7 linked regions of the Homo sapiens genome follow. The protein of the gene in region 1 purifies or fractionates together with the protein of each later gene. This does not show direct contact. Each region holds a gene or a part of one and is shown in the gene's direction. Other genes may lie near its edges.

Region 1 (2,826 bases):
CGGGAGGGTGGGGCAGGGCTGGTCACGCCTCCTGTGCTCGGGCAGAACAACTTCGAGGAGCCAGTGGCACTGCAGGAGATGGACACAAGCAACGGGGTCCTATTGCCCTTTTACGATCCCGACTCCAGCATCGTCTACCTGTGTGGCAAGGTGCTCACGGCCGGGCAGGGAGAACAGGGCACTGGATGGAGATGTGGAGGGCCTTGTCCGGGCGCGCCCCTGAACCGACTGATTTTGCAGGGCGACAGCAGCATTCGGTACTTTGAGATTACCGACGAGCCGCCTTTCGTGCACTACCTGAACACGTTCAGCAGCAAAGAGCCGCAGCGGGGCATGGGTTTCATGCCCAAAAGGGGACTGGATGTCAGCAAGTGTGAGATCGCCCGGTCAGCAGCCTTGGCCCCTCCTGAACACCTACCCGCCTCTGTCCCCCACTCATGTCGGGTCCTAGCCACGGGGCTTCCCCAGTAATGCAGTGCTTTGGAAAAGCGGGGCGGGGGGATAAGACAGCTCTGTTTCAGTGCCAGACCCACCGCTCACTAGCCTTACATTCTCAACTTCAGTTTCCTCATCTATAAGATGATGGTGAACACACCATCAGGGTGTTTTATTGCAGAACCAATAATGTGTGTAATGTGCAATATGCATGGTAGGCGCTGAGCAAGTGTTGGCCTCCAACCCCCTTGGTCTTAGACAGGAGAAGTTAAGGACGTGGAAGTCTGCGAGGGTGCTGAACCCTGCTCCCTTATAGGTTCTACAAGCTACACGAAAGAAAGTGTGAACCTATCATCATGACTGTGCCCCGCAAGGTGAGGGGCCGGGAGAAGGGTTGGGCAGGGCTACGAGGCGGAAGGGAGCGGAGCAAGCCCCGCACCCTCTCACGCAAGTCCTCCTGTCCACCCACCCCCGCAGTCAGACCTCTTCCAGGACGATCTGTACCCGGATACGCCAGGCCCGGAGCCGGCCCTAGAAGCGGACGAATGGCTATCCGGCCAGGACGCCGAACCCGTGCTCATTTCGCTGAGGGACGGCTATGTGCCCCCCAAGCACCGCGAGCTCCGGGTCACGAAGCGCAACATCCTGGACGTGCGCCCGCCCTCCGGCCCCCGCCGCAGCCAGTCGGCCAGCGACGCCCCCTTGTCGGTAAGATCGGCCCTGCTGCACTCTGGCCCAATCTACATCTCCCCCAACCGCCCCTATACGACACGGCCTCTCTGTCCTCCGCCCCAGCAGCAGCACACCCTGGAGACGCTGCTGGAAGAGATCAAGGCCCTCCGCGAGCGGGTGCAGGCCCAGGAGCAGCGCATCACGGCTCTGGAGAACATGCTGTGCGAGCTGGTGGACGGCACGGACTAGCCCCGCGCGCCAGGCAGGCGGAGCGGGGCGGGGCGCACAAGCTCGGCCCCGCCCCGGCTTTTAGTCCCGAACTCCGGACCCCGCCTTCTTGGGCTGGGCCCGGGGGCGGGACTGGGGAGGGAACTCCGCCCCTCGCGGGAGACCAGAACTCTTGGAGCTTAGGGGAGACCCACGTCGCTCCAGCGGAGGCTGGACTGCGAGCCTCGTCTGGGACTCGGCTGGAGCTGGCCTAGGGAGGCCTGGGGTAACCTGGGGGGCTCAGCAATGGTGCTGCACGGCGAGGTGGTGTCCCCCTTTGTCCTCCGCCCAGGGCAGGGAAAGTGCTTAGTATTAGCGTGATGCTTGGGGTTATTGGAGCCTGAGCTTGACCTCAAACGGGTGGCGATTTGATGGGTACCCCCAGGCTGGGGAAAATGACAGCGCTTCTCCTAATCAGCTCACTGGATTCCATCACCCTGAGCGGTAAACCAGATGGGCGTCACCCCAGTTCTGCAGACACATACACAACCCGTTTGCTGCAGAGCCGGACCCAGTGGCTACACCCACAGCGGTCTGTGGTAGAGAACTCTCTTCCTTCTTTCCACCGACAGGGGCGAGGGCTGCTTCCTCGCGGCAGCCCCCGCGAAGAAATCTCGAGAGAACTGGCATGAGGAGTTAGGTTCATCACAAATACACACACACTGCCCCCAACCCTCTGCCGTTGCCTCTCTCAGAAAAACAAGACGTACTGAATGAAATATTTTACTAAGCGTTCAGTCTGTGCCTCCTGCATGGGTGGGAGTGAGGGGAACGAGACCCCCAGCCTCTGCAAATGCTACCCCCAGGCTCCTGGGAGACCTGGCGATGCACTCCTGGGCTCAGGGTCCATCAGGCAGCCTCTTACCCTAGAGCTCTCTCCACTCTGAGGTTCAGAAGGACCCCAACCCACACCGTAGGCGTTCCCCCCAAGTAAAGTTAGGTAGCAAAAGCCTCCGGTATGAAGCCTCTTTTATTTGTGCCTCAGAATCAGTCTGGTGCCCCTGGCATCAGGGAAGGGGGTGGGAGGAACAGTTTCTCTTTGTTCTTTTCTTCCATCCCTCTTTGTGTCCCTTCTGAGCCTCACTGGCTGAGCCGGGAAGGCCAGTCCCAGACAGGCCCGGGACAAGGGTGTGCGGTGGGCCCCTGCCCCTGGCGGGGTCTGTGCTTCTCTGGGTGGGTGAGGTGGGGCAGGGGAGAGCCGGGGGTTAGCACCATTGGATGAAGGGTTTTAGAGTCAGTCTCCGTGTGGGGGCAAGTGGGATGTACAACCACAGAGGCTAGCAGCAGCTGGTGGGAAGGGGTGGGGGTGGCGCCAGGGCCCTGGGCGAGCCCTTTGTGTCCAGTCTACTTGGGTCTAGTGCTTACCCCAGCCCAATATGCTCCCCACTCTCCGAGGCACCATGAGGGAGTCAGGGCTTGCACAGGCCAGGGGGCTACGTTGGACACACTCCC
Region 2 (3,500 bases), on another chromosome or scaffold:
CACCTATGAGTGACAACATGCAGTGTTTGGTTTTCTGTCCTTGCGATAGTTTGCTGAGTGATGGTTTCCAGCTTCATCCATGTCCCTACAAAGGACATGAATTCATCCTTTTTTATGGCTGCATAGTATTCCATGGTGTATATGTGCCACACTTTCTTAATCCAGTCTATCATTGATGGACATTTGGGTTGGTTCCAAGTCTTTGCTATTGTGAAAAACAGCAGCAATGGAGTTTCACTCTTGTTGCCCAGGCTGGAGTGCAGTGGCATGGTCTTGACTCACTGCAACCTCTGCCTCCCGGGTTCAAGCAAGTCTCCTGCCTCAGCCTTCCAAGTAAGTGGGATTACAAGCACCCGCCACCATGCCCAGCTAATTTTTGTATTTTTAGTAGAGATGGGGTTTCACCATGTTGGCCAGGTTGGTTTTGAACTCCTGACCTCAGCTGATCCACCCGTCTCGGCCCCCCAAAGTGCTGGGATTACAGGCGTGAGTCACCGTGCCTGGTCACATTTTTTTTTTTTAAAGGCAGTCTATGGCCTTATGTAGCTGAAGTCCATATGGGCTCTAGGCATAGCTTGATCCAGGGGCACAAGTGAAGTCCAGAGCATCTCTCTATCACTCTGCTGAACTCTGTTGGCTTCACTCTTAGACAGGTTCTCTCCGTGAGGCACTCAGCATGGGTCCTACTGCAGGCCCATATCACAGCCAAAACACAGCACCTCTTGCCCTGTGCGTGATGCTCACTGGGCCACCTTGGTCAGATGGCAGCTCCTGAGCCCATCACTGTTGCAAAGGTGACAGGAAGGCCTGGTGATGTGCGCACCCTGGAGCCAGGCTATGGGCCCGGTCACATTGAAACCATATGGGGCAAAGTGTGGGTGAGGAAAGTCAAGATGAGGTCACAGGGGAAGGGAGAATGGATTTTCGTAGGCCCAAGCAGCAGCTGTGCTGCAGGGACACGCAGCAGCACCATGTCCTGTGCAGAAGGGACCCTCCCTGGCCACTTTGCACAGGGGCATGGAACTGGCAGGAAGAAGACATGATGTGTTTTTGAAACATTTGAAGCCAGCTCACTTGGAATTCCAGCATCCAAGTCAGCTGGAAGAGGGGGAGTTACCCTTGGAGGCAGGCGGAATCGACCATTGGATAGCTCCAAGTGCTGACAAGGGCGGACACGGGAGCTGATTTCTGCCTGGTGGGAAAGGTGATGATTCCAGCTACTTTGGGAAGTGGTTGGTCAGCATGGATTATAGCCGAAGGCCCCAGCTTTGCCTTGTTCTAGCAGTTCCACTCCTGGGCAGCCCGAGAGAGGCCTTCCCAACCATGGGCAGATGTTCATCATAGTATTGTTTGCAGTAGTAAGAGGTCGGAGCCCACACCAAAGAGGATGGATCAATCACTAAACTCTAAATGAGTGATCTAAGCAGGGGTCAGCAAACTTTCTCTGTAAAGGGCTAGACAATGAATGTTTCAGGTGTTGCGGGACACACCATGCCTGGCACCACTATTCCACTAGTGCTGTGGAGCGGGAGACTGCTAGGGATGGTGTGTGAATGAATGGGAATGACTGTTCCATCCCACGTTTATTGACAAAAATCGCCTTTCAGAATAGGCAAATCCACAGGGACAGAAAGATTGCTGGGTGCAAGGGGCTGGCGGAGAGGGAGGTCTGAGAAGTGACTTTTTTTTTTTTTTTAAGACAGGATCTCACGCTGCCTCCCAGGCTGGAGTGCGGTGGAGTGATAATGGCTCACTGCAGCCTTGACCTCGTGGGCCCAAGTGATCCTTCCATCTCAGCCTCCCAAGTAGCTGAGACCATAGGTGTGCACCACCATGCCCAGCTAATTTTATTTTTCTAGAGACAAGGTCTCCCTATGTTGCTCAGGCTGTTCTCAAACTAGTGGGCTCAAGTGATCTCCCATCTTGGCCTCCCAAAGTACTGGGATTACAGGCATGAGCCATGGTGCCTGGCTGGGAGTGACTTCTTCTTGGATACAGTATCCATTTGGGATCATGAAAAAGCTCAGGAAGTAGATAGTGGTGATGGTTGCATAATATTGGAGGTATCCTAAATGCCACTGAATTGTGCACTTTAAAACAGGGAAGTTGGTAAATTTTATGTTGTTTATTTTACCACCACCACCACAACAAAAGATAAAGAAAACACAACAGGTGGTCAACACCCACAAGCTATAGCTTTCTGACCCCTGGGCAAGGGCTCTGTCTACAGATACAGACAGATCTCAGCAACATGTTGAACACAAGAAGCAAATTGCAGAAGGATGTGCAGCAGACATGCAGAGGGCGCTGACTGTGGTTGAATAAAAAGCCAGTCACCCTCCCTTCCCCTCCCTGAATTGAGACCCATTCGGCTATAATAGGATTGAACAGTTGGTGACTCCTTTAAAGAAATGACACAGCCAGGTGTGGTGGCTCATGCCGGCTTTGGGAGGCCAAGGCAGGAGGATCCCTTGAGCCTGGGAATTTGAGGCTTCAGTGAGCCATAATTGCACCACTGTACTCCAGCCTGGGTGACAGTGTGAGGTCCTGTCTCAAAAAAAAAAAAAGGGTCAGATGCGGTGGCTCCTGCCTGTAATTTCAGCACTTTGGGAGGCCGAGGCGGGTGGATCATGAGGTCAGGAGTTCAAGACCAGCCTGGCCAACATGATGAAACCCCATCTCTATTAAAAATACAAAAGTTAGCTGGGTGTGGTGGCGTGTGCCTGTAATCCCAGCTACTCAAGAAGCTGAGGCAGGAGAACCGCTTGAACCTGGGAGGCAGAAGTTGCAGTGAGCCAAGATCATGCCACTGCACTCCAGCCTGGGTGACAGAGCGAGACCATATATATATATATATGGCCTAAAGTTTACTGAGCAAATCCAGTGCTCAATTACATCTAACTTTTCCTGTCACTACCAATATAATTTTTTTTTTTTTTGGAGACGGAGTCTCACTCTATCACCCAGGCTGGAGTGCAGTGGTGCAATCTCACTGCAACTTCCGCCTCCAAGATTCAAGAGATCCTTCCGCCTCAGCCTCCCAAGTAACTGGGATTACAGGCATAAGTCACCATGCTGAGCTAATTTTGGTATTTTTAGGAGAGACACGGTTTCAACACGTTGGGCAGGCTGGTCTCGAACTCTTGACCTCAGGTGATCTGCCCACCTTGGTCTCCCAAAGTGTTGGGATTACAGGCATGAGCCGTTGTGCCACCCCCCAATATAATCTTAATCCAGCATCTTCATACATTTTATCACCATTACCACTTCTGTCTATATATGTTACATATATAGGAGAGATATATATATAGGTTTTATATATATAGGAAATGTGTATATATAGGTGTTATATATATAGGAGATGCATATATATGTTATATATATATTATATATATAAATATTTTTTATATTTATATTTTTGTATGTGTGTGTGTGTGTATATATATATATATATATACTTTTTTTTTTTTTTTTTTAGACAGAGTCTCACTGTGTTGCCC
Region 3 (3,500 bases), on another chromosome or scaffold:
TGCTTGGCGTTTGCTTTTTATTTGGATTGGGTCTCTACTTCTTGTGTGTCATTTCGTTTATGTGGATAGTTTTAAAATATCTTAAAAAGTCACTCTTGCAGGACTGATCCTTTGAAATACTCCAGCCATGACTAAAAGAGAAGCAGAGGAGCTGATAGAAATTGAGATTGATGGAACAGAGAAAGCAGAGTGCACAGAAGAAAGGTTGGTGTTTCTGAATTTATCATTTTTTTTCAAAATATCAATATACCTAATTAAAACCAGGAAACAAGTCATAGTTCTTTTGGACTGTCTTTTTTTAACTGTTCTCAGTATTTTAGGGAATAATGTATTGTTTTATTTCCTCTGACTTAATGTGGTTGTAGCTGAGAGGGAAAGACAGTTTTAAACTAATGGTAGTAAAAGGGTAAATGAAATCAAAAGCAATTGCTTTCAATAGTTTTCTCCTTTGGGGCATTTGATTCTTTATTCTTTTCCTCAGCACTGGTTGCTTTAATTTCAGAAATAGTTTAATTCAACCTGAACTCATTTAACAAATATTTATGAGTAACTGTTGTAAACAACTAATTGACAAGAATATGTGAATAAATAAGATACTAATCTGCCCTTATAAAGGCCACGTTGTATTTGAGGAGACATACAGGTATATGAGTACTTACGGGACCAGTACTAAGCATAAAATGTAGTGAAAAGTGTTAATTCTTGGAATAATAGTGGAATCATACTTATTTGAAAGGAGGACAGTAGTAATGAGTTCAGAATCCAGGAGAGAACATGGGTAGAAATAGACTTTGGGAGTCAACAAGAAGACTGAGGAAAGTAGTAGTTAATGGTCCCTATTGTACTCCGTGAAGTAGGAGGTGAGATAATAAGCTGAAAGTAAAAGGGATTGAAAAGTACTAGAGATCTCTGTGGAGTAACAAAGGTTTAGAAGTTTCTGCAGTGGAACTGGACAAGATAATTAAGGTTAAGGAGGATACTGAGTATTGAGAGTACAGTTGAGATTTAAAATCTTAAATTTTTAATAGAGCTTTTCAACTTGTTTATCCCAGTTTTTCCAGCATAAGAAAGAGGGAATGCATGCTTCTGTGGAATTTCATGTATAGATATTTGTGTTAGAAATTACCCCAAAATTCAGAAACTAAAAATGCGTAACATTCAGCCAGATGCAGTGGCTCATGCCTGTAGTCCCAACAGTTTGGGAGGCTGAGGTGGGCAGATCACTTGAGCCCAGGAGTTCAAGACCAGCCTGGGCAGCATGGCAAAACCCTGTCTCTACAAAACATACAAAAAAAAAAAAAAATAGCCTGGCCTGGTGACATGTGCCTAAGTCCCAGCTACTCTGGAGGCTGAGGTGAGAGGATTGCTTGAGCCCAGGAGTTCAAGGCTGCAGTGAGCCATGATTGTGCCATCGTTGTGCCATTGCATTCCAGCTTTAGTGACAGGACAAGGTGCGGTCTCAAAAAAAAAAAAAAAGCCCAACATTTTTTATTGCTCATTGTTTCTCAGAGAAACCTGGGAGCAACTTACCTGGGTGGATCTGTCTCGGGTATTTCATGAGTTTGCAATGAAGCTGTCAGCCCAGGCTGCAGTCTTGTAAAGACTTGACTAGGGCTAGGGTGTCTGCGTCCAAAGTCATGCTTGAGACTCTCAGCAAGATGCCTCAGTTCCTCATCACATGACTCTCTCTAGGGCTGCTCATGGGATGGCAGCTGGCTTCCCTTAAAGCAAATGGTCTGAGAGACAGAATGGCAAAGTAGAAAGCCCCAGTGTCTTTTTTAAGTAATCTAAGAAGTGACATATCACTTTGTCTTAGTCTTCTGGTCACACAGTCCAACCCTAGTACAGTGCTGGAGGGAACTTTAAAAGGGCATGAATTTAAGAATCATTGGCAGCCCTCTTGGAGTCTAGCATGCATATATTTATACATGCATGCACACAGATGGTCCACAAAGTCTAAAGTATGTACTATCTGACCTTTTGTGGATAGTCTAGGTTAGGCGACAGATTGGTAATTAATATGTATGACCTATGTGAAGGAGGCAGTAATTGTCGTTCACCTAACGTAGATTTTTGCTGTGCAAGAATTTAGGTCTAGTAGTATGAGATCATCTTTTTTTTTTTTTTTTAAGAGAAATTGGTACTTTAGATATTTGAGGTCTTCCAAGGTTTAAATGATAGCAATAAAAACTTTTTAAAAATGTTTAATGTTCAGCTAGTATAAAGTAGTTCTTTAAAAATTTGTTTTAAAAGTGACATTTGAATCTTAAGAGTAATTGTTACAAAAAAAGAAAAAACTGGCCTGACACAGTGGCTCATGCTTGTAATCCCAGCACTTTGGGAGGCCAAGGCAGGTGAATCACGAGGTCAAGAGATCGAGACCATCCTGGCCAACATGCCAGTCTCTACAAAAAATACAAAAATTAGCTAGGCATGGTGGCGCATGCCTGTAGTCCCAGATACTCGGGAGGCTGAGGCAGGAGAATCGCTTGAACTCGGGAGGCGGAGGTTGTAGTGAGCCAAGATCGCGCCACTGCACCCCAGCCTAGGAACAGAGCGAGACTCTGTCTCAAAAAAAAAAAAAAAAAAAAACCTACCAGGCTATAGCTGAAGAGTTTGGTAAAAAGGCTTACTTAAAGTTTTTTTTTACCTTAACAAATAACAATAGTAGACTAGTATTTTTAAATAAGCTTGTTTTTAATCATGAGGGTTCTATTTTATAAATTTTAAATGTTTTAAGTCAAGTGCAATGGCACACACCTGTAGTCCCAGCTACTTGGGAGGCTGAGGTGGGAAGATCAGTTGAGCTCAGGAGTTTGAGGCCGGCCTGGTGTGAACATAGGGAGACTCTCTCTAAAATTAAAATATAAATAAATATTTTAGAAAAAAGTTTAAGCTATATACATTCATTGAATATCATGTATGTATCTCATTTTACTTGTAATTTATGTGAAAACTTGACAGATTTTTAATGCATACTGTTTTTGACAATCACAAATAAGATTTAAATCATATTTAAATTAAACATGTTGGAATACTTAATTGAATTCCACATTCACCAATTCAGCAAATATTACTTAGTATTTGTCTATTTGGCCCTATATAAGGATTTGTAAGAGTTATGTAGGATTACTTACCAAAGATTTTAACCCTTTTGAATTCAAAGTGTGAAATAATATGAAAGAGCACTAAGACAGTTTTTAGGAAGAATATACATTTTTTTTTTAAACGTTGAGCTGTCCTGATTATAACCAGTTGTGTTCATATTAAATTAAAGGGAAAGTCTTTTATTTAACTTATTCTATTTTTATATCTTTCTTTTTTTTTATGTGGGGAAGGGAAATTGACTAGTAGAGATGGCATACAGATTTTGAGGAGACAATGTGTCTTCCTTTCTGGGTCTAAAATTCTTCAAAATAACTTGAAAATGTAATGCAAATGCAAACATAATGTATGTGCAATGTTTATATGTGTACACATACACACATATGTATGTACAT
Region 4 (3,500 bases), on another chromosome or scaffold:
GGCTGAGAAACTCACTAGTATTGGCCATGAGAGGAAGAGGTTGCTCCTAATGAAAAATACAGCAAACTAACAAGCCTTTCCACTTTGTATAATATGCACTTCCGGAATTTGAAATTATTTTCTACTGTGTCCTAATGAAACATAACAAAAGCAATTGACATCAGAAATAGTCTTGCCTTCTGGCATCATAAAGTTAACTAAGAAATTCAGTTCAGTCAACTATGGCTAATGTTTGAAATGTAAACATCCTGCTGTTATAGAAACAGATTTTGGAAGCAAAACTTTTCATATTAATAGGAAGTGTTGTGCTGAAACCTATTTAAGTACTCCAGGAAAAAAAAAATGTGTGTGTTGGGAGGGGGTGCGGTATTTTAATAAGCCCACCATATTGAGTTGCATTTAATCAACTCGTGCCACCATTTTAAGTTTAAAGTATTTTTTAAAAATATAAATGGCTAACATGCATGTAAAAAAGATACTTGGTTTCATCAGTAATGGGGGAGATGCAAATGAATAAGAACATACCATTTTTCACCTGTGGGACTGGCAATATTACACAAGATTATAGTCTATCGTGTTAGCCAGAGTGTATGGGAAATGGGCATTTTCACTCCATTGATGGTAGTGTACAGATTGTTACAATCTCTGTAGAGGGAAATTTTGTAGTACTTAACAGAATTAAAAATTGAGACTGCTTTTTGACCCAGCAATTTCTTCTCTAGTAATCTTTCCATTAAGATTGGAAATACCTTAAATGTCCATCGTTAGGGGAATGGGTAAAGAAATGTAATATGTCCATGCAGTGGATATTATACAATAATTTAAAATAATTGGGTAGCTCAAGGGAAAGATTTCTGTGACACTACATAAAAAAACAAGTTACAAAATAGTATGTGTTATATAATCTTATTTACGTAAAAACATAAATATGGGTTTTTTAAATCAATTACTTAAATTTTAAATTTTTTTAGGAGACAGATTCTTGCTCTGCCATCCAGGCTGGAGTGCTGTGGCACAATCATAGCTCATACAGCCTCAACTCCTGGGCTCAAGTGATCATCCTCCCTCAACCTCCCAAGTAGCTGGGACTACAGGCACATGCCACCACACCCAGCTAATTTTTTTTTTTTTTTTTTAAGTTTTTGCGACAGTCTCCACTGTATTGTCTAGGCTGGTCTTAAACTCCTGGCCTCAAGTGATCCTCCCACCTTGGCCTCCCAAAATGCTGGGATTGCAGGTGTGAGCCACCATGTTCAGCCATCAGTTAGTTTTCTAAACAAACAAACAAAAAACCTCAGCAGCAACAACAACAGATTTCCTTGTAGTTTACTTTGTTCATTTATAACTTATGCTGCCCCTATCATCCAAGGCTGTTATTAAAAAAGAGAAAGAGGGAGGTTTATCCATTTGTTTTCTGGTAATGGAAGTTAGAGCAGCTGTTGTGCACTAGTCTTTTTGTTTTTTCAGATGGGGTCTCGCCATGTCACCCAGGCTGGAGTGCAGTGCCACAATCTTGGTTCGCTGCAACCTCTGCCTCCCAGGTTCCAGCGATTCTCCTGTCTCAGCCTCCCGAGTAGCTGGGATTACACCCGTCTAATTTTTATATTTTTACCAGAGATGGGGTTTCGCCATGTTGGCCAGGCTGGTCTCGAACTCCTGACCTCAAATGATCCACCCACCTCAGCCTCCCAAAGTGCTGGGATTGCAGGCGTGAGCCACCACGCCCGGCCGTGCACTCCTTATTAATTGATCTTATTTTCATGATAGGGCTGTACTCCCTTTTCCAGTAATTCCTTTAGAAATCACAATGATGAGGATTTAGCATTTGATGAATCAATGACTAGTTATGCTCTGTAAAAGCTTTATCTTTAGAATTCTTATGTAAACAAAGATGACATAAAATAATGCTCCTCTTTCTTCTTTCTCCGAAGGGTCACATGGATGAAGATGTTCAGGAGGCTCTGCTCCAGATCATACAAATGCGGCAGGGGCTTGTGTGCTAGCCGTTAGCACTGACTGCCAGTATCTGTTTTATCTTGCTGGTGCTGAACATTCTTTGTGCAACTCCATGGTCTTTCTGGGCCTTACTGTGCTGGTATAATTAAAATAAAATATATTTTGTTCTATTGGTAGGTTTTTTTTTAAAATTAGATGAATATGTTAGTCTTTTTCAATATCAGTTTGAATCTTATTTTCTGTATGTGTTAATTTTACAAATAGGCAAACAACATAACTTTGCCCTGGATTGACTACATATTTTTAAACCTTCAAGTCCCTAATAAAACATGAGCCATCTGAGTGAGTCCATATGAAGCGAGGTTAGGCTGAAATAATTGCTTAAAGATGTCTTTCAGAGAAATTAATTTGGTTGGTGGCCACTTTTAGGTGGATCAAAAGACCTTTCAGATCCTCAGAACCTTGAGACATAATACAGTTGTGAGGAATGTGTTGTAACTTGGCTGGCCAAGTTACATGTTACAGTATCTTTACTGAGGTAACTTCATTAGTGTCTTTGGCCTTTTTTGTAGGTATAGATATTTTTTCTTTTTACACTAATAACTTTTATGCCTTTTAAAATAAATTTATTTTCATAAATGGTTTGCAGTGCTAAATTACATTTAGATTAAGAACAGGCAGGGGTGGAATATATCAGGAATTTATAATAAAATTGCCTTAATCTCTACAACAGTATCTTAATTTTTACTTGCGGTGACTATTCTTGCCACAATATTGGAGAATAATGATAGATGATATACTAGATTTTTCAAAGTGTGAAAACCTTTAGACTTTTTTTAGCAATTAGTTTGACATTCGCTACTATAGTAACCAAGCACTCATTATATATGCATCCTCCAAATGTTTCATGCTTATTTATAGGAAAGTTATATTAATGAGATTAATAATGTGAAATACAGTTTTCCTGCAAAATTAGCATTAGAGAATTGATTTTAGATAACAGATTTTTAAAGTTTTAGAGAAAAGTACAGTAATACAGTAAACTGAAAGAGTATATAGATAGCAATAAAATAACATAAGTGGACATGTTTATAGTAAATACTCTGAAGTAAACAACCGTTTTTATTAACTGCATCTCATTAGGGAAAGTTTATATGTCTTGTTATTTTTTATTAACATTTTATTTACCATTCAGAGTGAAAATTACTAATTTGAGTATTAACAAATAACTGAATAAATGGATCATTACAGTTAGGTTTTCTCAAATTGCAAAATTTGCCTTAGCAATTATCTTTGAACATCCCGAACCAGATTTTTAAATCCCATTTTTGTTTAATAGGGTAAAAATACCATCAAAATGACTTCTCATACCAAAGAATAAGCCATCATATTTTTTCGGTGTTGAAACAACATTGAAAGTCAGAATTGGATTTGTTTTTAATTCTTTATACGGTTTACATAAGCAATATCTGTCTCTTTAATTATTATGATTAATGTCGTCCTTCAGCATGAGTTCTGTTTCACAAGTTTTGGGCCACCTATTT
Region 5 (3,500 bases), on another chromosome or scaffold:
CTCTTTGAGCCCAAGGGTCCATATCTGAAAAATAAGGTTAATAATGCCTATTGGGAAGGGCCATCATAAGGATGAAGTGAGGTTACACGTATTAAGTGAGGTGACATTAAATGAGGGCACACAGTGGATGGCAAGTAAACCATGGCGATTGCTGGACTGGTGGAGTGTTAAGTGCTGTGGTGTTTTCTGATGGGAGTGGGCAAGGAGGCAGGGAAATGGCTCAGGGCAGCACTAGAGTTTGAGGCTGGTTACCTTTAGACAGTCGTTTTCTGACTGAGCCTTAGTTCTCTTTATTGTCAAATGGAGACAGCCCATGAAAGTGTGGTATAGGTGGGAAAACATGGTGGCTGCCGCAACCCTCTGTTGTAAAGGCCACCTCTCCAGCTTGGAGTGCCATGGCCGCTGTCTTTAATACTCCCTTGGAGCTGGCTCAGCTTTGGCTCATCCAGGAGGGTTTCTATTGCTAAAGTCAGTGGTACTCACCCTGCCTCCCTGCAGCATCCACTGTGCTTCCAGAGGCTGAGCTCAGCACTGTCCATTTCTGGGCCATTCTGCAGAAACTCACATTTTCCATTCCCTCCTTCCTAAGCAGCCAGCAGCACCAGACTCTGGCCCATTCCATGACAATGCTGGCTGTGGGACAGAAGAGTTCCCTGCTCACACCCTTCCTCCAGTGGAAGAGTGTGTGTCTGCACTGCTAGGGGGTCCTCTGGAAGGAGTGGGCACAGCACTGAACATTTCTTAAGAAAGGCCTGCTGGTAGCTTCAGATAAGCACCTCTCACAGCCCAGCCGTTTGAAGGACTGGCCCAGTCTTCATCCCTATTTTATAGATGAGGAAATGGAGGCCCAGAGCTGGTCAGTGACTGTCTGAGTCACCATTCCTCACCACTGCACTCTGCTGTGTCTCCTGACAGAACTGCCTTAGTCTGGGGGCCACTGTGGTAGGCTGAAGTCTCTCCTGGCAAGGCTGGTGGACTTCTGAAATTTCCTTTTGGGATGGGCTTCTGGGTAAGCATTGAGATCTGAAGCACGTTGATTCCTGGAGGACTGGAAGAGACCCAGCCCTGATGGCCGAAGTCTTAGAAATGGCCACGGAAGTGGCCGACATGCTGATGATAGGTGTGTGGACACGGTGCTGCTCATGCTGTCAAGAACATCCCTCTGGCTCATGTCTCACATTCAAGTTCTCCTGTAGCTACCATGAGGGCCAGCATTTTTCCAAGTTCAAATCAGCATGCCCTTGAAAGTTTGTGATCTATGAGAATAGAATACTTACCTAATAAAGGAAAACATGCAGGTAGGGTCCATGTGCTGAACCACATTCCCACAGGAACAAGTCCACAGAGGAACTGCAGGCTCTAAGACCAGCCCTGCCCTTGGACATCCTTGGCTCCAGCATCCCGCCCACTGAACATGTGCACAGCACTTCTTCGGTCCACAGAAGCCTTTGTGCATAAGGCAAGGAGCTGACTTTGCTGAATTTAGGGGCTGAAGGGCCTTACGCAGAAACACTAAGCCCCTCACCTCCTGGAGTCCTATCTGAAGCAGCCCAGGGGTGCCTTTCCTGTGGAGTCTGATTCCTGCCAGCCATGTGCCAGCCTGGGACATGCACACAGAAATCTTTGTTTTTCCAGGGGATCTGGGCCAGGGTGGGGTTGGAACACCCCTCTCCCCGCCACACACACACTTCCACCAAGTTCTGGGCCACAGCTTCTTGGGCCTGGGAAAGGCATTTGTGAAGCCTGGCACACCCCCATGTTGAAGGGTGGGGAATTAGAGTTGAGCTGACCAGGAAGAGGAGGGACTTCAGGCCCAGGCCAGGCTTCAGCATCTCTGGACTCACCTGGATGCCTGCTGGTGGGTGCCAGCTGCTTGAAGATATGGGAGGCAGCTAGCTTCCCTGAGGGGCTCCAAGAGCAGGCTGAGGCCACTCACTGGCCTGCCTACCTGCCCTCCTCCCCAGGCCCCTTCCTGCCTGGATCACAAGGCATTCTGATTCCACTCCCCACTTAAGGCCTCTGCCTGGAAAGGTATGTGTGTGGACCCAGATGTGGGAACACCGCCACGCTGCTGTTTCTTACTGACACTTGGAGCTTACCTTCTCAAATTTGCTGGTGGTTTTCCCTTTCATCCTTTGGAGGGGCTATTCCTCTCACAGTATTTCTTCAAGCACTGGATAGACTGAGGAACTTTTTTCTTTCTGTCTTTAGCCAGAAGTGGACTTCCCTGTCCCCCCAGGCAGAGGCAGGAGTGTGGAGTCTGTGCAGAGCCAGCCCCAGGAGCCCGTGAGTGTGCCCCAGACACTGACTAGCACGCTGGAGCACATTGTGGGCCAGCTGGATGTCCTCACTCAGGTAGGCCACACTGTGGGTTCACCCGTCATCCCGTCATCTGCACTTGGTCCCGCATTTGGACCGTTTGAAGTTGGACAACAGGTGCTGGATTTTTAAAAACATAATTATAACGGACCTGTTTTCCAGTCCATATTAATGACATTGCAGAGCCTTCCCGGGGATCCTGGCTCTTGGAGCCATTCAAGCCCTGGCCAGACCACTAGACTCCAAAATCCCCAATGCTGGGTACTACTGGAGTGTGCTCACCTAGAGCTGGCCTGGGCCACTGAAGAGCTTTGAAAGAAACACTGTGTTTGTTTATTCCTCCCACTCTTTGCTGGATGGGCACTGCAGGGGCATGCCAGGGAACTGAGTAGTGAGTCAGGGCTTCTGAGAACCTAGGCTATGAGTTTGAGCCTGGACCTTTCCTTATCCTCTGTGCAACCTTGGGGAAATCCCTTTAGTTCACCAAGCCCTGGTATGTTTATCTGTAATGTGCTGGTGGTTGTGGGCTCTGCCTGCCACATTCATGGTGAGAATTAAGGGAGATGAATCTGGGAAATGTTTGGCCCATGCCTGGCCCTAGGTAGCTGCTCAATAAATGTTAGTTGTGGCCCTGACCACCCTCGTCACTGAGATGGATATGGGCCCTGCCCTCTGGAGCGTAGGTTGGCAGCCATAACACAGGCTCGTAGTGTAGCAGTTTCAGTAAGAGCAAAATCCCTTGACAAGAGGTGGTGGCCAGCAATAGGGGCATGCTTGGCAGGGCCATTTCACCCGAGGGAGGAAGAGAGGTCCTGGCTGCCTGTGGCTCTGGAGAGGCCATGGGCACGTCCAGGGAATGAGTGAAGCTCCAGGTGGCTGTCATGTGGATATGTGGTCTTGGGGTGGGGGGCAAGGCAGGATTTAGAGGTTCCCCAATTCCTCATCTCCTTGGCTCTTGAGGCCAGGCTGGGACTCTGCAGATCCTCCTCTACCATGCCAGCACATGGGTAGAGCGAGGCTGCAAGAGGGACACATGTGGCCCACGAGGAAAAGAGGTGTTAAAGCCAGGGGGTGGGGGATGGGGAAGCAAGGAAGAGTGGTCTCCAGTCCAGCTCACATGAAGGACGCAAAGGACCCTTGATGTCACTAACGGAAATGGAGCTGAGATGGCATGGTATCCT
Region 6 (3,500 bases), on another chromosome or scaffold:
AAAAAATGTTTTGGTGTGGGGAGGGATTTCACTATGTTGCCCAGGCTGGTCTCAAACTCCTGGCCTCAAGTGATTCTCCTGCCTCAGCCTCCCAAAATGCTGGGCTTACAGGCATAAGCTACCATGCCTGGCCCGGGGAGTTAAAATTTTTGAGAGTAGTCAGGGAAGGCCTCCTGGGAAGGTGATTTTTGAATAAAGATCTGAAGGAGGTGAGGGTGTGCTGTGCAAGCATCTGGAGGAAAAATGTAGTCAGATGATGTCACTATCCTGTGTAAAACCCTCCTATAACTGTTAATTGCACTAAGAATAAAATCCAAATTTCCCAACTGTGCTTTCTGCCTATCTTTTCCTCTTCTGTCACTTTGCTGCAGCCACACCGGCCGCTTTTCTGTTACTTAAAGTATACCAAGCTCTATACTGAGGTGGTTCTTTTCTTTGCCTGAAACATCTTTCTACCTGTTCTTTGCAAAGCTGACACCTCATTCTTCAGGCCTCAGGTTATCACCTGAGAAAAACCTTTTCTAACCATCCTATCTGAAGTAACTCCTTTTATGGTACCATGTTTTAATGACTATAGCACTTACCAGAAGAATTTTTTTTTTCTTTAAACTTGTTTTTGGCTTACCTCCTTCACTAGAAGTATGTACACTAGAAGTAGGGTTCTGAGAGCAGGGACTTTATTCACTTCTCTTTTCCCATGCCCAGTAAGAATGAGAGGTCACCGTTTAGGAGAGTTAGAGGTATGGGCTTATATCTCTAAGAAAATGATAATTTTTAAAAAGTGCTTTATTTTTGGTATAGTGTCTTACCATAACCATTTCTCACCTTGTTGAACCCCAACTTTGCAGGGTTGTCTTTTGTTTTTGAGACAAGGTCCTGCTCATTGCCCAGGCTGAAGTGCTGTGGTGCAGTCATGGCTCACTGCAGCCCTGACCTCCCAAGCTTAAGCTATCCTCCCACCTCAGCCACCTGAGTAGTTGGGACCACACCTGGCTAATTTTAAACTTTTTTTTATAGAGATGGAGTCTGTGTTGCCCAGACTGGTCTCACATTCTTGCCTGGGCCTATACACCTCAGCCTCCCAAAGTGTTGGGTATACAGGCATGAGCCACCATGCCTGGCTAACTTTGTAACTAGGGAGGAGAGTTTTTGGATGTAGGGATGTCTTGACCCTATTGACTAACCATATTATCCTTTACTTTTGTAGAGACGCTCTCCTGGTCTGTGTTCTGACTCTTTGGAAAAGAGCTTAAGGATCACTGTTGGCAATGACCACTTCTGTGTTAGCACACCAGAACGGCGACGGCTTAGTGATCGGCTGGGGTCACCAGTGGATAATCTGGAAGACATGGACAGGTAGGCATCACCTAAGGCAGGGCCTACTATACTAGTACTTGAAGGCAGAAATGTTGCTGTTTTCCGAATGATATATTTGAAAGGATGGTGCCAGCTCTAAAGTTATTTCCTATGCCACATGTCCAGTACAAAATAAAACGCTGGGATAGAATTTCTAAGTGGGAGGAGTATAATGATGTGTAGACTCTGTTGTTGAATAAATTGTATAGAAAAAAAGACTTTAAAAAGGTCATCTGAGTCTGACTAGAAAGAAGAGGCTGAGGGGACATAATCAGAGTCCCCCAAATGAAGAACAGTTGAGATGGTATAGATTCTAAAACAGTGAAACTATGAGCAGTCCCTTCTCCAAAGAAAAGTTCTGGACAAAATGGGAAGTCTTTTTAAAATGGTGTTATTTTTTAGTTTATCCAGGCTGAAACAGATTCAGAAAGGGTTAGGTAAGTTCATGTCTAATATATGTGTGTATGTGAAGTAGATAAAGTATTAATAGAAAGCTAGAGACCTTCAAAAATGTTTAAGTTCAGTTATTATTTTACAACTATTGAGTGCTGAGGAAGGGTAGATACACTCAAGAGAGTTGGATATAGACCTCAGGTACTAGGAACTTAACCATATATAGATTGTAAATAATCACATTAGGTGTTTTTCACCTCACAAAAGTCAAAGTATGGATGGGAGTTCAGGAAAGCACTCTTTCTCAGAGCTGAGACCATGACTGTTATGGTCTCTGCCCAGCACATTGGGAGTTTTGACAAATGATTAGCAGTAGCAATAAATCAATGTAATGTAATTTCAAACTGAGACTGTCGCTTGCCGTGTTGCACAGAGCATAGCTAGGCGGGTGGGGGAGAGCTGGGCAGGAAGTCTGAGGACCAGTTTTGCCGTTGGTAATACCTAAAAGTTCCATTGGCTGTGGATGCAGTGAAGCAAGGCAGAACAGTCTTTTTTTTTTTTTTTTTTCAGGCTTAATTCACTTTATATTTCTTGTATAAAAACCCTATGTTGTAGCCACAGCTGGAGCCTACGTCCTCTGCACAGAGACTCTGGTGTGTGTCTTGATGAGGTGGTCAGTGAATTCCTGATAGGGAGACTTGGTGAATCCTGTCTCCTTCCAGAGGTCGGGGGTCAGGTAGCTGTAGGTCTTAGAGATGGCATCAAAGGTGGCCTTGGCGAAGTTGCCCAGGGTGGCAGTGCAGCCCCTGGCTGAGGTGTAGCAGTCATCAATACCAGCCATCATGAGCAGCTTCTTGGGCACGGGCTGAGACGATGCCAGTGCCCTTGGGCGCAGGGATGAGGTGCACCAGCACAGAGCCGCAGTAGCCTGTCACCTTGCAAGGAACGGTGTGGGGCTTGTGGATCTTGTTCCCCCAGTAGCCTCTGTGCACAGGGAGAATGGAGAGCTTGGCCAGGATGATGGCCCCGCAGGTGGCAGTGGCCACCTCCTTGGAGCACTTAACACCCAGACCGACGTGGCCATTGTAGTCCCCGATGGCAACAAACGCCTTGAACCTTTTCAACTGGCCAGTGTGGGTCTGCTTCTGCACTGGCATAATCTTCAACACCTCATCCTTGAGAGAGGCCCCCAGGAAAAAGTCAGTGATCTCAGATTCCTTGATGGGCAGGAAGAAGAGGTAGTTCTCCAGGGACTTGATCTTTATGTCCTTAACCAAGCAGCCCAGCTTGGTGACAGGCATCCACTCCTTATCCTTGGCCTTGCCTCCACGAGCTCCGTGGCCTCAGCCCTGTCCACAGCTGCAACCCCAGCCCCTCCATGGAAGCCACCACGGTTTCCCATCCCAGGGCCCCCGGGGCCTCTGCCCCCGCCCCACCCCCTCCACCGACATCATCTGCCATTTGGTGTTTTCTCAGAGAAGAAGCAAGGCAAAATAGTCTTATGTCATATAACATTGAAGCTTCTAAAGGGCTTCAAGATATGTGACTGTATCACTTAATTGAGGCAATAGCCCTTGCTCTTCTGGCTGCTTCTGTTTGGGGAAATTATTGAGTAGGTAGTCTGGGTAGGTGGTACATAGTGTGATTGTCTTCATTCTTTGCTGAGGTTTTGAGTTAGCTTCAGCAGTTCTTCTTAGGCCTAGGATGTCACTTCCCCTTTGCATAAACTTTGTTATGCACATGTGCTTCAG
Region 7 (3,500 bases), on another chromosome or scaffold:
TGTTAGACTGGTCTTCTTGTGAAAGACTGTCTTCTAGGATTTCCGGGGATTGATGTATCTTTTCAAGGTGGAAATAGAACAGTCGCCTTGAAAGAATTTCCGTTAGGGAACCCGGATAGTTGGCATTTTGCATGTTTTGTTATTTTGTTGTGCAGTAGGTGCTCTCTGTGTTTGTGGAGTATACCACATAGTTTTGTTACCACTCTAGTGCATCGAGGCAGATAGGATCAGATTGAGAGATGTGTGCTACTCCTCGGGTAAAATGAGGTATTTACTGGAGCCAGTTAACTTCTATCACAAAATGCCCAGCCTTGGAGTTACACTTTTTGTATGCTTTATTCTTGGGAGCTGTGCTTAATTCACATAACAAAGCAACTTAATTAAAATTAGCCTGTAGAATTCCATAATCGTGATGATTGTGATGAGAAGTATTTCACGTGCTTTGTTTGAATTATTGCATTTAATCCTCACAGCAACCCTGTGAGGTAAGTTCTATTATCCTGATTTTACAGATGAACAAACCGAGGCTGCTAGAAGTTGGTAGCGCCAGGGTTTGAAGCAGGCGAACTCCAGAGCCTCTCTCCTGCCTCTCGTGCTCTGCTCCTTCAGTAGCTGGAGGTGCCATTGCATGTTGCAGGCCAGGAGTCACAGTATACACAGACTGTCTTTTCTGTATAATGAGCAAAAGTGCCAATCATTTTTAAATTCTTGGACTCTTTAGGAAAAAGACGTCTACCTGGTGGAGCACCGTGGCAGGTTGCCTCAGCGTGGGAAGTCCCATGTACTTCCGTTCAGGTGCTCAGGAATTTGGAGAGCCAGGATGGTGGAAACTTGTTCATAACAAGCCCCCAACGATGAAACCTGAAGGAGAGAAGTTGTCTGCCTCTACTTTGAAAATAAAAGGTACTGTTGTGAGAACAGTACAAAAGTTGCTAGTCAGACCAGAGCCAAGCAGGTGTGAGCCCAGGAGACGCTCCTGCTTCCACTGGGCATGGCTCGCAGGCCTCTCTGGAGCTACTCTGTTTAACACTTCTGTGATGACACTTGTGTGTGTGCTAGAAATAAATGCCACATAAAAACATTTTATCACTTCCTAATCAAGCTATCAGTTTTATAAATTTCCCAGGGTATCTGAAAGGTTCAATGTTTTCCATCTGGTTTTTGTTTTTAAACTTCTCACAAAGGTGAAGAGATATTTTAAAATTCCCGTAATAAATAACATGATGAATTCCCATGTACCTTCCACCTCACTTTGACATTAACTCCTGACAGTCTCATTTTATCTAAATCCTCAGTACTTTTCCCCAACCTTCCCCATTCTTACAATTGGATTATTTAGAAACAAATCCCAGGAATCAACATTTCATTCCTAAATATCTTAGTATGTATCTCTAAGAGATCAGGATTCTTTCCTTTTTGCAGCCTGACCATAATGCCATTTTCATATTTAAAAAGATGTTAACAGTGACTTCTTACTATCACATATTGATCTGGTTTTATAATCTAAAAAGCTTTTAATGAGCTTTTAAATTTTTATATTTATTTGTTTGCTTGTTTGTTTATTTATTTGAGGTACAGTCTCGCTTTGTTGCCCAGGCTGGAGTGCAGTGGTGCAATCTTTGCTCACTGCAACCTCTGCCTCCTAGGTTCAAATGATTCTCGTGCCTCAGCCTCCCAAATAACATGCCACCATGCCCAGCTAATATTTTTGTATTTTTATTACAGACGGGGTTTTGCCATGTTGGCCAGGCTGATCTCGAACTCCTGACCTCAGGCGATCCACCTGCCTTGGCCTCACAAAGTGCTGGGATTACAGGGTGAGCCACCGGATCAGGCTGATGAGCTTTTAAAATTTTAAAAATATGATTGGGAAGAAAATCAAATAGTACTTAAGGGTGTAAAGTATGAAAGTTCCCCCACCTGCCTATGGCCTGCAATTTCACTTCCCAGAGTAACCACTGTTGTCTTTTGTGAATACTTTCAGAAAGATCTCTGCAGATTTAAGCATTTTCTTAGTTTTTTAAAAAAGTAAAATGGACTCGTACTATTATGAGTTTTCCATTTTTGCCACACTTACCAGTATGTCTTGGACATCTTTCCATGACAGTACATGTAGATTTACCCTATTTTATTTCATTACATCCATTATATAATTATGTGATAATTTGTTAAACCATTCTCCTGTTGATGGACATTTTGGTTGTTTCTACCTTTTTGTTGCTATTTTATTTATTTATTTTTTAATTAAAACATTTTTAAAAAGTAATAGAGATAGGGTCTCGCCATGTTTCCTGGGCTGGTCTTGAACTGTTGGGCTCAAGTGATCCTCCAGCCTCTCCTTCCAAAAGTGCTGGGATTACAGGCATGAGCCATCATGCCTGACCTTTTGTTACTTTAAACAGTGCTACAATTCTACAAATTTGTGTACATGTGAAAATGTGATAAATTCCTGGAGTTTCTACATCAAAGGGCATATTCATTCAAAATTTTAATCAGGATTGCCAAATTATCCTCCAAGAAACTGTAATAAGGCCGGGCATGGTGGCTCATGCCTGTAATCCCAGTACTTTGGGAGGCCGAGACAGGTGGATCATCTGAGGTCAGGAGTTCGAGACCAGCCTGGCCAACATGATGAAACCCCATCTGTACAAAAATACAAAAATCAGCCGGGCGTGATGGCGCATGCCTGTAATCCCAGCTTCTCTGGAGGCTGAGGCAGGAGAATTGCTTGAACCCGGGAGGCGGAGGTTGCAGTGAGCCGAGATCACACCACTAACATTCCAGCCTGGGTGACAGAGCAAGACCCTGTCTCAAAAAAAAAAAAAAGTACCCATTGAAATGCCCATGAAAATGCCCATTTCCCCATACATTTACTGAGCTTTATCAAACTTTTTTTTTGGCTCACTGCAGCCACCACCTCCCAGGCTCAAAATCCACCCACCTCAGCCTCCCAAAGTTCTGGGATTAAGAGGCGTGCACCACCACGCCTGGCTAAACTTTTAATGTTTGCCAGTTCCAGTAGGTGAAAGATAGTATTTATTTGTTTAAATTTGCAGTATAACTTCTTTTTTCTCAAGAGATATCTAAGTCTTTTTTAGTTTAGGGCATTCATTGAACATTTCTCTTTATTGAACATGATATTACTCATAATAATAAATTAGCAAAAGAAACTAAAGTTGAGTAGTTATTTTAAAATTTAGATATGGGTTGAGCAATCCAAATCTGAAAATCCAAAATCAAAAACACTCCAAAATCTGAAACTTTTTCAGCACTGACATAACGCTCAAAGGAAATGCTCATTTGCAGCATTTCGGATTTTGTATTTCTGGGTTTGGGATACTCAGCCAATAAGTAAAATGCAAATATTCCAAAAGCCGAAAACATCTGAAATCCAAAACATGCTTGTGCCCAAGCATTTCAGATGAGGGATACTCAGCCTGTATTTATTCTTTCTTAGCAGCCTCAAAACCAACTTTAGATCCCATCATTACTGTTGAGGG

The links.
Region 2: the proteins of CORO6 (region 1) and PPP1R12C purify together in Homo sapiens (affinity purification with mass spectrometry; one large-scale study listed by BioGRID and IntAct). This does not show direct contact.
Region 3: the proteins of CORO6 (region 1) and GABPA purify together in Homo sapiens (affinity purification with mass spectrometry; one large-scale study listed by BioGRID and IntAct). This does not show direct contact.
Region 4: the proteins of CORO6 (region 1) and UACA purify together in Homo sapiens (affinity purification with mass spectrometry; 2 studies listed by BioGRID and IntAct, with this or other methods). This does not show direct contact.
Region 5: the proteins of CORO6 (region 1) and POC1A purify together in Homo sapiens (affinity purification with mass spectrometry; 2 studies listed by BioGRID and IntAct, with this or other methods). This does not show direct contact.
Region 6: the proteins of CORO6 (region 1) and ZNF318 purify together in Homo sapiens (affinity purification with mass spectrometry; one large-scale study listed by BioGRID and IntAct). This does not show direct contact.
Region 7: the proteins of CORO6 (region 1) and KAT14 purify together in Homo sapiens (affinity purification with mass spectrometry; 2 studies listed by BioGRID and IntAct, with this or other methods). This does not show direct contact.

What each region holds. Positions count from the first base shown.
Region 1 is NC_000017.11:29,614,262-29,617,087, reverse strand, and holds the end of CORO6 (coronin-6), read left to right. Parts: intron 1-45; coding exon 46-150; intron 151-240; coding exon 241-386; exon of another isoform or gene 387-387; intron 388-751; coding exon 752-809; intron 810-912; coding exon 913-1,143; intron 1,144-1,230; coding exon 1,231-1,356; 3' UTR 1,357-2,326; downstream 2,327-2,826.
Region 2 is NC_000019.10:55,104,138-55,107,637, reverse strand, and holds part of PPP1R12C (protein phosphatase 1 regulatory subunit 12C), read left to right. Parts: intron 1-3,500. UniProt on the Homo sapiens protein: Regulates myosin phosphatase activity.
Region 3 is NC_000021.9:25,741,472-25,744,971, forward strand, and holds part of GABPA (GA-binding protein alpha chain), read left to right. Parts: intron 1-89; exon of another isoform or gene 90-101; 5' UTR 102-127; coding exon 128-204; intron 205-3,500.
Region 4 is NC_000015.10:70,655,559-70,659,058, reverse strand, and holds part of UACA (uveal autoantigen with coiled-coil domains and ankyrin repeats), read left to right. Parts: intron 1-1,931; coding exon 1,932-2,003; 3' UTR 2,004-3,500. UniProt on the Homo sapiens protein: Regulates APAF1 expression and plays an important role in the regulation of stress-induced apoptosis. Promotes apoptosis by regulating three pathways, apoptosome up-regulation, LGALS3/galectin-3 down-regulation and NF-kappa-B inactivation.
Region 5 is NC_000003.12:52,095,424-52,098,923, reverse strand, and holds part of POC1A (POC1 centriolar protein homolog A), read left to right. Parts: intron 1-2,211; coding exon 2,212-2,355; intron 2,356-3,500.
Region 6 is NC_000006.12:43,363,148-43,366,647, reverse strand, and holds part of ZNF318 (zinc finger protein 318), read left to right. Parts: intron 1-1,207; coding exon 1,208-1,356; intron 1,357-2,428; exon of another isoform or gene 2,429-3,233; intron 3,234-3,500.
Region 7 is NC_000020.11:18,158,363-18,161,862, forward strand, and holds part of KAT14 (cysteine-rich protein 2-binding protein), read left to right. Parts: intron 1-721; coding exon 722-903; intron 904-3,457; coding exon of another isoform or gene 3,458-3,460; coding exon 3,461-3,500. UniProt on the Homo sapiens protein: Component of the ATAC complex, a complex with histone acetyltransferase activity on histones H3 and H4. May function as a scaffold for the ATAC complex to promote ATAC complex stability. Has also weak histone acetyltransferase activity toward histone H4.